Linked DNA regions of Homo sapiens: region 1 is linked to region 2. Evidence: fine-mapped expression QTL. A gene starts in region 2. The other region holds a variant in brackets. All regions are shown on one strand. Distances are from middle to middle.

Region 1 (5,374 bases), 41 kb before region 2:
TCACAACCTTACATTAAAAATACCTCTGCAAGGACATCTACCCAGCAACTGCCTATCCAACCTCAGACTGGCACTACCCTTGTTATTGATCTTTGTAGCCAAAGCTACTTATCTCAAAACAATTATGTCACCCTCTTCATGTTCCTTTAAAAAACCTTTGTGTTCCTTCACCTCCCTGAATACGTACATAATTTGCTATGGCAAGTGTACTCCCATGGCAAAGCTCATTTCCGAGTAAATATCTTTTTCATTTAGAGAGCCTCTCTCTCTGTTTCTTATTCAGGTTGACAGGATTAAGCATCACTTTTACTTTTTATGTACTGATTGAATTTTACAATATGTATTATCGAAAAGAAACACATGAATGTTTCCATTTTGGGGAAGGATCCATTCTCAGGAAAGTTTCCTGTTAAAATTTCATTTTGATCATTACAGAAGGAAAAAATACACACCAAATATTAGTAAACTATAATAAAACACTCAGATCATGCAGTGACTTTTCCTTTTAATAAAAAATAATCAACAAGTGAAAGAAATCTAAACCATGTAGGCATAAGGAGAATTTATATCTGGGTTTAAACTTTAGCCACTTGTATCGCCTGAGGTTTTTCAAAACCTTTATTATTTCCACAATTTCCAGTGTGCCTGACCATCTAATGACTAATCTCACTCAGAGATGTTGACAAAGTAACACACGGGAACAGCAGTAAGATATGTGGCAATGATTTCTCAAGGGACCGATATGCTCAGCTCATAATATGAGAAGGATATGAATAATTCAGATATTCCCTGTCTGAAAAAAAAATGACTTTTAGATATCTAAGCCTAAATCAGATTGAATAAATTAAAGAAGATGAATAAGAAGTAAGGTGGATTCTGTTGCTTAGCTTCACAAGTTACTGTTGCAAATTTCATCCAGAGCTCCCAACAGGGCAGCCTCCAGTGAAACAGCAGCACTAATGAACAAATCCGGTCCCAGGATTTAGGAATCAAATTTTTCTTTCTCAAAAGCAGAAAGGCCATGCAAAAGCAATCACTGATGATTAGCAGACTATCCACAGAGCATAACTCCCCCAAAACAGGAGGCCCTTCAGGTCAGCACCCCAACCCTAAATAGACATGTTAGCTAGCCAGATGCTTCCTGGTGGAGGGAATGTGAGCCTAGCAGATTTCACAGTCAGCCCTCCTGAGCACCCCACCCCACATCAAGACAGTTCTCCTAAGCTCAGCTCTTAATTCAATTGCCTGGAGTAAAACTGACCTGCGACATAAGGTACAACAGAATGGGGCCAGTGGCATGATGGTCAATGTTTCACTGGCTCTCTGGGAGGAAAAAAGGCCCCGACTTGCAGCATTTGCCAATTTCTATGGTGTAAATACACTCTCCCCATTGCCAATTTCAAGCTACCAACTTGACGTCAATTAGCTTGCAAAATACTGAAAATGTAACCATCAGCTCTTGTGAGCCAGCCCACTCCAGTGCACTATTGAGTAGCCCTCCATCCTTTCTCAGAAATATAAAAAATAATCTTCAGAGGCCTGAATCTCCACTCATTCCTATGGGTAAAGTGTTGTTTCTTACATGTCTGTTCTCTCTTTAAGGGACATGCCCTTCCAATGGGTGATACACTGGCTGCATTGTTTAGTACTGCAGTAGATATAGATATATATATAAATATTCATATTTTTTAACATCTTTATTGATATACAATTTATGAACCATACAATTCACTGATTTCCAGTGTACAATTCAATGGTTTTTAGTGTATTCAGAACTGTACAACCATCAGCAGACTTAATTTTAGAACATTTTCATCACTCCTCTGCCCCAAAACATTCTTCTTGTCCTTGGAAGTCCTTGGAAGTGACCTCTCACGGTCCCTCAACAGCCCCAGTCCTAGGCGATCATTAGTCTACTTTCTGCCTCTATACATTTACCTATTCTGGATATTTCACATAAATAGAATCAAGACTTCACATAAATGGAATCAATATCATACAATATCATACATATACATCTAAACATAAAAATATTTGAGACGAACAGACCTTAATGGATAAGCACCATAGGAGCCAGTGCTAAATGAGAAAATTAACTACCCTCATGATTATCTTGTAGAACCAACTGATAAACCACCATAAATAGGGCAGGAAAAAAATACAAGAGTCTGTACTGATGCTTTCTGTCAGCAGCTTTTCTTCTACAGTTCTCTGCAGAAGACATTTTAACCAGATGCAGCCCACCCGAGAGAGAGAGATAAAACACTATGAAAATGTCCACACTCCCTGAGTGTAACTTGTGATGCTCCAAATCAAAGCAGGTCAGCTTCCGGCGACCCTGCTCTTCTCGCTTCCTTCCGCAGACCTCGTGGCTTTGGCGTGCAGAGAATTATGGCTTTGAAGAGGTTTCAGACCCTCACGTTGGGACGGAGGCTGCAGAGCAGTGAGGCCCGCTGGCCTGCGACATGGAGCTATTTTTAAAGGCGTCTCTGAAGTGTCAGCAACTGATCTTGCCAGACCCCCTCCCTCAGAACCAAATCCCACTCCTTATAAGAGAAAGACTACAGAAAAAAGCTTATGCAATCCACACACGAAAAGGCATGGAGAAGACAAAAATAAAAGTGGCAGTGGCCTTTTGAATCATAAAGAAACTACTGGCTTTCAATATAGTTGGATTTTTTTTAAGCCAAGCCATGTATTGCTTTTATAAGCAAAAGAAAAAAGTTAAATTCCTCTTGCGGGGAGCAGGGGGAAGGTACTTTCTGTCTCTGAAAAGTCTTTTTGTAATAAAGTCACCCAAGACCAGCAGTGTATAAAAACTCTATCTATAATATGACCATAGCTATACGTTTCTTAAAATGGATTAAGATTGTAGGAATGAACAAAAAATATTAAAATGGCTGTCCCTGAGATACAGAAGAGTAGAGGATTATTTCCCATTTTTTCCAAAATGATGTGTTACTTCTATAATATTATTTTGTAGTAATTAACTCTGTAATCTTTGTCTTCTTAAATAAATGTAC[C/T]CCTGTGTCAACAGTTCCTAATGAAATGGGCAGCAGTTCTTCCAATGTCATTGGATACATAGGACCGACCTAATGAGGCCATGAGTTCTCCACATACAGTTTGACAGTAAGGAGAGACTCTGGCCAGGAGACACCCCTCCACGTTCCAGTAAGCCCACCCGCAGCCAAGCACAAAAAACGAAGGCGTGCCAGCAATGCCCAACACAACCTGCAGTGCACTCTTTGTCCTGGTTTCTTTCCGGTCTCAGGGAAGCAGATCGACCCTAGCTAATTGATTCTGCTGCTTCTGCTCCAGAACGTCCATTTTCCTGGACTGCACTGGGCTATTTAAAGTCGTTTTTATCACATCTGCTCCATTTCTGAGTCCAGCTGCAAACACCCACGGGTAAAGGGAGCCACAGAGTGACTGCAGGAACTCCGAGGCTTTACATCCGAGGGGTGCGAGCGCCAGGACAGGGAGCAATCTCACTGTGTAAATCCAGGCAGATGGCTGTTGAGCCTCAAGGTCAAAGCAGTGGCAGTACGCCCTGTCTCATTCTCAAGCCCGTGGAAACACGTGAATCTGTTATTCTCATTGGCTGCCTTTTCAGACTTTAGGGTTGCAAATGGTCTCAGAAAAGAAAAACAGGAAAAGGCTTTTGTCTTTCTGTAAATAAAATACAATTGTAGGGACTTTCCCAGTTTACATATAAATCCTCCCACCAGGATGAGGAAAGGACTGTGCCATCTCCACCTTCTCCTTCCACATATCCGCTGAGAGGGAGGCTGAAGGTCAGAGCAGAGGCCCTGGAATCTTCAGACCTGGGCTCAAGGCCCGTCTCTGCTACTCATAAGCTGTGTCAGCCTGGGGAGTCCTTTCCCATTCCCCAGGTCGACTGGGCTGCAAGTACCAAAAGCAATAGCAAGCCCTGGCACATTTGTATTATTTTTCCAAGCACAAAGCAGGTGATCAATAAATGTCTGCAGAATAAATTAATCATCTCAAGTTATTGGTTTTTCATTGCTTTAAAATTTGAATTTTTATAAAGCTATTTTGTTCTAACTTCAAGTGGATAAGCTACACTTTAATGAGGCTCCTGTATGTGAGAACAGCTATTAATTCAACTGCTGAATGTCAGTCTTTCACCAAGCAGAAAATCTCTTCCAATATCTACCTATGTGTATGAAAATAATGGATTTGTCCACAGAGGTGACAATCAACATATTTAACAACGAGCAGAGCTCTGGCCCCTGTCAGGCATAAGGCACAGTGTCTGTCCCTGGCCTAGGGAAGGTCCCAGAGACCAGGCCAGGCCTCAGCCCTTTCAGCTGCTGGCTGATAGGGACATCCAGAGGATCTGGGGTGGGGGACACAAGGATGGAGGTAAGGGGCTTGGGCAGTGGCTGATTACCAAGTGGTGTTTTAACAATCAGCGGAGCCATGCTGGGGCGCACTCACTGAACAGCAGCCCTGCGGTTCATGAATATGTGTACATGACTATACATATATGTCTGGCCTCATGTGTTTGTTCCATGACTCTAGGACAAACTCATGCACGTTACATCATGCATCATAAGATCAGGAAAGATTTCCTTCCATGAAAACAAGACTGGCATTTCAAGTAGGTGACAGATATATGTCATGGCCTTGCCTAGGCCACCCACTTCAATCATTTTCACACCTGCCTGGCCCCTGTGAGAATTTACACTTAGAACAATTCACCAGAGTGATAGAAGTGAGCGACGCAGTGCTCTGGGTTGGAAGGAAGAGCACTTTGTAAGTAAGTGCTTGCAAAAAGGTAAGATGCATTCAGGAGCTTCCCAGGAGCTTTCGAAGACATTTTATTTGATTCTTACACCTAATCCTGGAAAGGACTTAAGATAGGGATAACTAAACCCATTCTACAAATGACCAAAGAGACGCAGAGATACTCAATCTTACACAAGGTAACAAAGCTAGTAAGAGGTGCCCTGCCTAGAAACATCCCAGACCTTCGTCGCCAGCTCCCACCACCACCCCACAGCTGAATTATGGGGAAGTGATGAGCTCACCCACAAGGTCCCCGCCCACCCTGCCCAGATACTCAGCCATGACTTCCTTCTCTAACCACACCGGCTTCCCCAGCAACCCTAATGGCTCCACCCTATACCTGCCAGAATAAACGTACTTTAAGTTGTTCTGTAAGTGCTAATTCCAACAAAAATACCAAGGAATCCAGGCATACAGAAGGCTCAGAAAATACAGGCAACCTGAGTTTCCATGGCTCTGGGCCAGGTGGCATGATGGCTGAGAAAGTCAGGCTGCTAAGGCAAGACCCTGACTGTTCAGAAGCCTGTTAACTACGTAAATGGCTGCATGAGAAAAGAAGTTT
Region 2 (5,374 bases):
GGGGATGGGAAGAATGATTAAGATAAACCTGGCCTAATTTTTGTGTTTAGTCCCCAAAGGTCTTAGGCCACAGAGCTCTTGCTCCCTGAGCTTTAAGTTCAACCAGATGGCACTGCAGTTACTGACATTCTGAGCTAGCTAGGTTTCTGAGAACCAGCCCACATCATTTCTAAGGCGCAAATGCCTCCAAAGTCTCAAAACACTAGATTTTAAAGCAAACCTTTGATGAGAGTTAACTGTGGTCTGGAACCACATCCTGATAGCTCCAAAGGGAGTTAGGACAAAAGAGAATGCCAAATACAGGTGCAGATCCGAGGTACCCCTCAACCCCTCTACAGACAGCCTATAGGTATTTAGGCCTGAAAGAAAGCAAGCCAGGCAGGATGCAGAGACACACGGCAGGCAAGTGCTGGGGCTTCCTCCTCCCCAATTCCTCTCACCAGCAGGAAAGAGGTAGCTGCACTCAACCCATTCCCAAAGGATATAAAAATCAATATTGGAAAAATGCAGCCCCATAAGAAAAAAAATAACAGAAACAACAAACACAAAATCTTACAGTAAACCTCCCCAGGTAACGTTCTCGTTTACTTAACAAAAATCACTTATTCACCACATACTGGTTGCCATCAGGAAGAGGTCAAACAAAAGAATGTCACATTGACGTTCAGCTCTCAATGCCACACAGCACCGGGTTCTTTGGCGAATAGGGTTCATCCTAACAGAGAGGCTGTGTGTGATATGCCACGCTCTCAAACAGTGACAGTTTACGAACAGTCAATGCTTTCATGCTATCATATAATGGAAAATGAAATTCCGTTGACCAGAGAAAAATAACCTTAAGAATGAATTCAGAAGGGCTTTTTACACTTGAACATGAACTACAAAATGATGCTAAATATGAACTCACCCTAGCACTGTCTTCCCTCCTATCATTTTGTGGGGTAGGGAGAAACAGGCCAGCTCTTAGAGATGACCTGCAATGCTACAAAAATAAGCTCAACCCAGGCTTCTGTCTTTCTTCAATATGGAATTTTTAAATCCTACGATATTAGCTGGAGAGGGGCAAAGGTAATGAACACATCCTATAATAAAAGTGAGAGGTTTTGTTCCATGCTCGTGATGTCCCCTGTCCTCACCTCTTAAATGGCATCTAGTTATGTGAGAACAGGGGGAGAAACTGCAACAGAGGTGCAGAATTCGTTGCCACTGGAGCAGCTCCAGTTCTCGCTGAGCATCTAGGCGGATTCTCTGGGAACTGCCGTTTCCATGTCATTTTATTTCACATGCTACAGTTTAGAATTTCTAAGGAGAAAGAGATCGTGCATCCGAACACTAAACCGGAATAAAAATGTACAGGAGATACTAAGAATAGGACAGAAACCTGCTAAGTCTAAAATATATAAACCCGCCATAGCCAACAAAATAAGGCTTCCAAGAAAAGGGGGTGGAGGTGCAAAAGAGCCGGCTTCCCCTAAAGGGCCTGGCTGCAAGAATCCCTCTTTGGCCACTAAACGGTTTTAGCAGAACCACAGATTCGTTCTGAGGGGGACAATTTGGATTCGGATTCAGCAAGAAGTAGAAAAGGTGCAGACGCGGCCAAGAACAGGGCTCCCTCTGCAAAGAATCCAAGCCCAAAGGAAACGCGGAAGGGATGGAGAAGAGAGACGCGGGAACGAGCAGGGAGTCTCTCCCGTCCTACACTGGCGACTCAAGGGGGCATCGGCAGTCGGTGGGAGGCAGAGTGTGGTCTCCCAGCAGAGGCAAGTGTGCTGACCTCCAGGCCAGTGTCAGTGGAGGGGAGCTCTGAAGGGTCTGCAGACGCGCCCTCCGGAAACATCAGGTTTCAGTGGCATCCATCCAGATGAGGTTGGTGGCCCAAATCCAAATGTCCCATTCCTCTGCCCCATCATGAGACGACGGGGCAGGGACCCACTGTGACCCGCGTCCGCGATTAGAATCGGGGACTGCCCGAGACCAGAGGCCGCCCGAGTCCCGGCTCGCTCCCCTCCTTGCGCCCTTCGCCGGGGCGGGCAGCCGGGCGGCCGCCGAGGGACATCTCGCGGCTACACCCGCAGAGGGAAGTTCTCCCAGGCAGCCGGCGGAGCCGCAGGGGACTACGGAAAGGAGGATGCAACGAGCCTGGGTCCCTCCGAGCTGAGTAGGGCCCGGAGTGGCCCAGAAGCGCTCGACTCCGAACGCAAAAAATGCCTCCCGCAAACTTTTCCCGTGGGCGCCGGAGGGCCTGGAGCTGGCGGAGAGGAGGGCGCGAGTCCAGGCGGGGTCGGCCTGAAGGCAGCTGGGGTCTGGGCTTCGAGGGAAGGAACCGCAGCCGAGGCGGTGCCGGCCGCAGAAGGTGGGGCTGCCGCTCTCGGCTAGCGGCGTTCTCGCCGGGAAGTCGGGGCTCCGCGCCCCCGCGCGCTCCGAGCCCCGCGCCTCGCCCAGCGCGGCCCGCGAGTGGGGAGAGGCGGGCCCCGAGCAGCCACCCCGGTCGCCGGCCGGGTCGGGCAGCTCGCGCTCACCTCGGTCCTCCAGCCCGTCGCTGAACTGGCCGCTCTCGCTGATCCGCACCTGCCGCTCCTCCTCCAGCTGGGGCGGCTCGCGCACCGGGGAGCTCAGCGGGGCCGGGCCGGGGGCGGCAGCCGGTGGCGCGTGGCCCCGGGGCGGCGGCGGGACGGTGGGCCCCTGGGAGCTGCGGCGCTGGATGCCCGCGGCCGGCTCCATGGCGCGGGGCTGCGGATCCCGGCGGCGGCGACGACAAGCGCGGCGGGGACTCGAGTCAGAAGTGCGAGGCGCCGCGGCTCTGGCGGGGGCAGGAGCGGACGGACTGGCCGCGTGGACAGGGAGGGAGGGCGGGCGGGCGCCGCGGAGTGGAGGTGCACGGGCGGGGGCGGGGACGAGCGGAGAGCCGCTCGGCTCCGCGGCCGGTGGCGGAGGCTGGGGCCGCGTTGTTGCCGCCGCGCTCCGCCCCTGGGGGCAGGTGCGGGCGGCAGGGACCCGCCCCAAGGCCCGGGCGCGGGAGCCGGCGCACCGAGGCGGACGAGAGGGAGGAACCAGCGTGAGGACCCACAGGCGGCCCTGGCAGAGCTTGGCTAGGGCGTAGCGGGGACCCGCCCCACCTGCGCCGCGGGATGGTGCCCAGAGGGGACCCCTCCCACTGGATTCCTCTGGGGTCCGCGAAGCCCGCGGCCGCGCGTGGGTAGCAGACAGCGCCCCTAATTTGGCATCTTTCTCTTCTGGAGCTGCACAGGCTTCAGAGGCTGTACAGGGTCTTCGCCTGGGCCTCCATTCTCACTGCTCATCCAGGGAAAAAGGGTTCATCTGTCCCCAAGCCCGTCGCTCTCCGTCCTTCTCGGAGCTTTAACTCCCCTCCCAGTTTCTCCCTGGAGCACCCATTTAGCCAGGGATGGGGTATCTTTAGGACAGCGGGCGCTATAGAAGATGCTTGAACTCCGAGGCTTCCCCATTTCGACTCTTCCTGGGCCTTTGTCCCATACAGTTCGCTCCCCTGCTCATCTAAGTCTTGTGTGATCTTCAGAAATCCATGGAAGCCTCCCTTCTACGAGAAGTCTCCCCTACTCTGACCCCTGCAGCTCTTAATTCATTTTGTGCGGTGGGGCTGATCTCACCAGTGAGAGTCCACCGCAGGGCACACGCCAGCTCTCTTGATGCCCAGAGAGGAGCAAAAGAGGACCTGCTGTTTAATAAATTCAGCTTGGATTTGTTGAGGCTCAGAAAAGTATACCCCAACGTATGGCACTTTGGTATGCTAAGTTTGAACTAAAAAACTAAACAGGCCTCTGAAGCCGCCTTAGAAACAAAGTCTGTCTCCCCCCCGACTTTCTCCCCACTAAGCAGTTCACAGAAACCAGAATTCCTCTTCCCTACGGTGGTCATACAACCTAGAAATAGTACTCCAACCTCCCTGGTCCTCTGCCTTTCTGTGTAGGAGCTGGCCATGAAGAAATACTCAGACCTACCTTGTCTGATAGTAGATCCTGAGACCCTCATTCCAGAAGAGGTCCTGCTCTATACATGCTGCACAGAGAGGCCAAGAAGAATCTGAACAGGCCTCGCTGGGTTCAACCCTCAGTCTATTACCATTAGATCACACCCTTTGTCCAATCACATTTCTATAAGGCTGTCCATTCTTCACTGAATCTAAGCATAAAAACAGGCAGTTTTCCCTGAGTCTTTGCATCTTCATTTCTGAAGGCTCCTGTATCACATAAAACTTTGATTCAATAAATTTGTTACGCTTTTCTCTTATTAGCCTATCTTTTGTTATAAGCATGTTTGCCGTGCCCCTTATGATGGGGAGGAAAGTATCACACCTTTTCTGCCCCTACCGTTTCAATGGTATCAACATCCAAGCTCTAGAGTCCGGCTTTCGTCTTTAGATTGATTCAGTCTCTGAATTTAATCCGGGTACTCCAAAATGTCAATTCCTCATTTAAAGGAGTCCTCCTCGTTTCTTGAAGAGTCACCCTTTTCCTTTTTCTTGTCTGCTTTGCTTGTGATTGAAATGAGAGTAGGATTTAAATGCCTTTGTGGTGCACTGGAAATATCACCAGAAATGGGGAGAGGGGTCTTACTTTATTTTGTTGCTGCTGTTATTATTGTTGTTGCTGGATTGGAATGAGAAGATCTGAGTTGACCTTGACCAACTTACTTTACCTTGTTGACCACTAATTTCTTCAACTACAAATTGAAAGAGTTGAACTACGTCATTTCAAAGATCCCTTCCTGCTGCAAAGAAAAAGAAAAATGCTATGATTACTTGGATAAAGACAATGAAAATCTCTACCCATTAATCCTGGTTCTATCCTCTAAGGTAGAACATCCTTCAGATATATTTGCAGAGTCATCTCCTCCACTTTTTTCCTCCAGTCTATCCCATTTAATCCCCCTGTCAATGGCTCTCAAAGTATCACCTGGGGAGTCTAAGAACAAAAATACCGAAGCTTCGACTGCTAGAGATTCTGATATCATATTTAACGTGATCGTTCTTGGCTGGGACCTTGGCATGGGTATTTTGTAAGGCACTTCCCCATTCTAAGAGTCATCTGGGGGCTTAAAAAAAATTGGCTGGGCGTGGTGGCTCACGCTTGTAATCCCAGCACTTTGGGAGGCCAAGGTGGGCAGATCACAAGGTCAGGAGATCGAGACCATCCTGGCTAACATGGTGAAACCCCGTCTCTACTAAAAATACAGAAAATTAGCCGGGCGTGGTGGCAGGTGCCTGTAGTCCCGGCTACTCAGGAGGCTGAGGCAGGAGAATGGCATGAACCCAGGAGGCGGAGCTTGCAGTGAGCTGAGATCATGCCACTGCACTCCAGCCTGGGCGACAGAGCGAGACTCCATCTCAAAAAAAAAA

What was found. PIP is the estimated chance that this variant, and not a neighbour inherited with it, causes the effect.
Region 1: its variant is fine-mapped to the expression of TMEM163 in whole blood (TOPMed, PIP above 0.99).

Annotation. Positions count from the first base shown.
Region 1 is chr2:134,674,795-134,680,168 of GRCh38, forward strand. All of the region lies in intron 2 of TMEM163 (transmembrane protein 163), which reads right to left. Among named protein-coding and RNA genes, the nearest start is that of TMEM163, 42 kb to the right of the region's middle. The variant C/T (reference allele first, on the strand shown) is at 3,024.
Region 2 is chr2:134,716,215-134,721,588 of GRCh38, forward strand. TMEM163 (transmembrane protein 163) reads right to left here and starts at 2,786. Exons shown (of 8, transcript NM_030923.5): 1 at 2,520-2,786. The coding sequence starts at 2,721. LOC105373629 (a long non-coding RNA gene) reads left to right here and starts at 1,898. Exons shown (of 2, transcript XR_923354.4): 1 at 1,898-2,353. RefSeq lists a silencer at 2,870-3,109 and an enhancer at 4,812-5,374.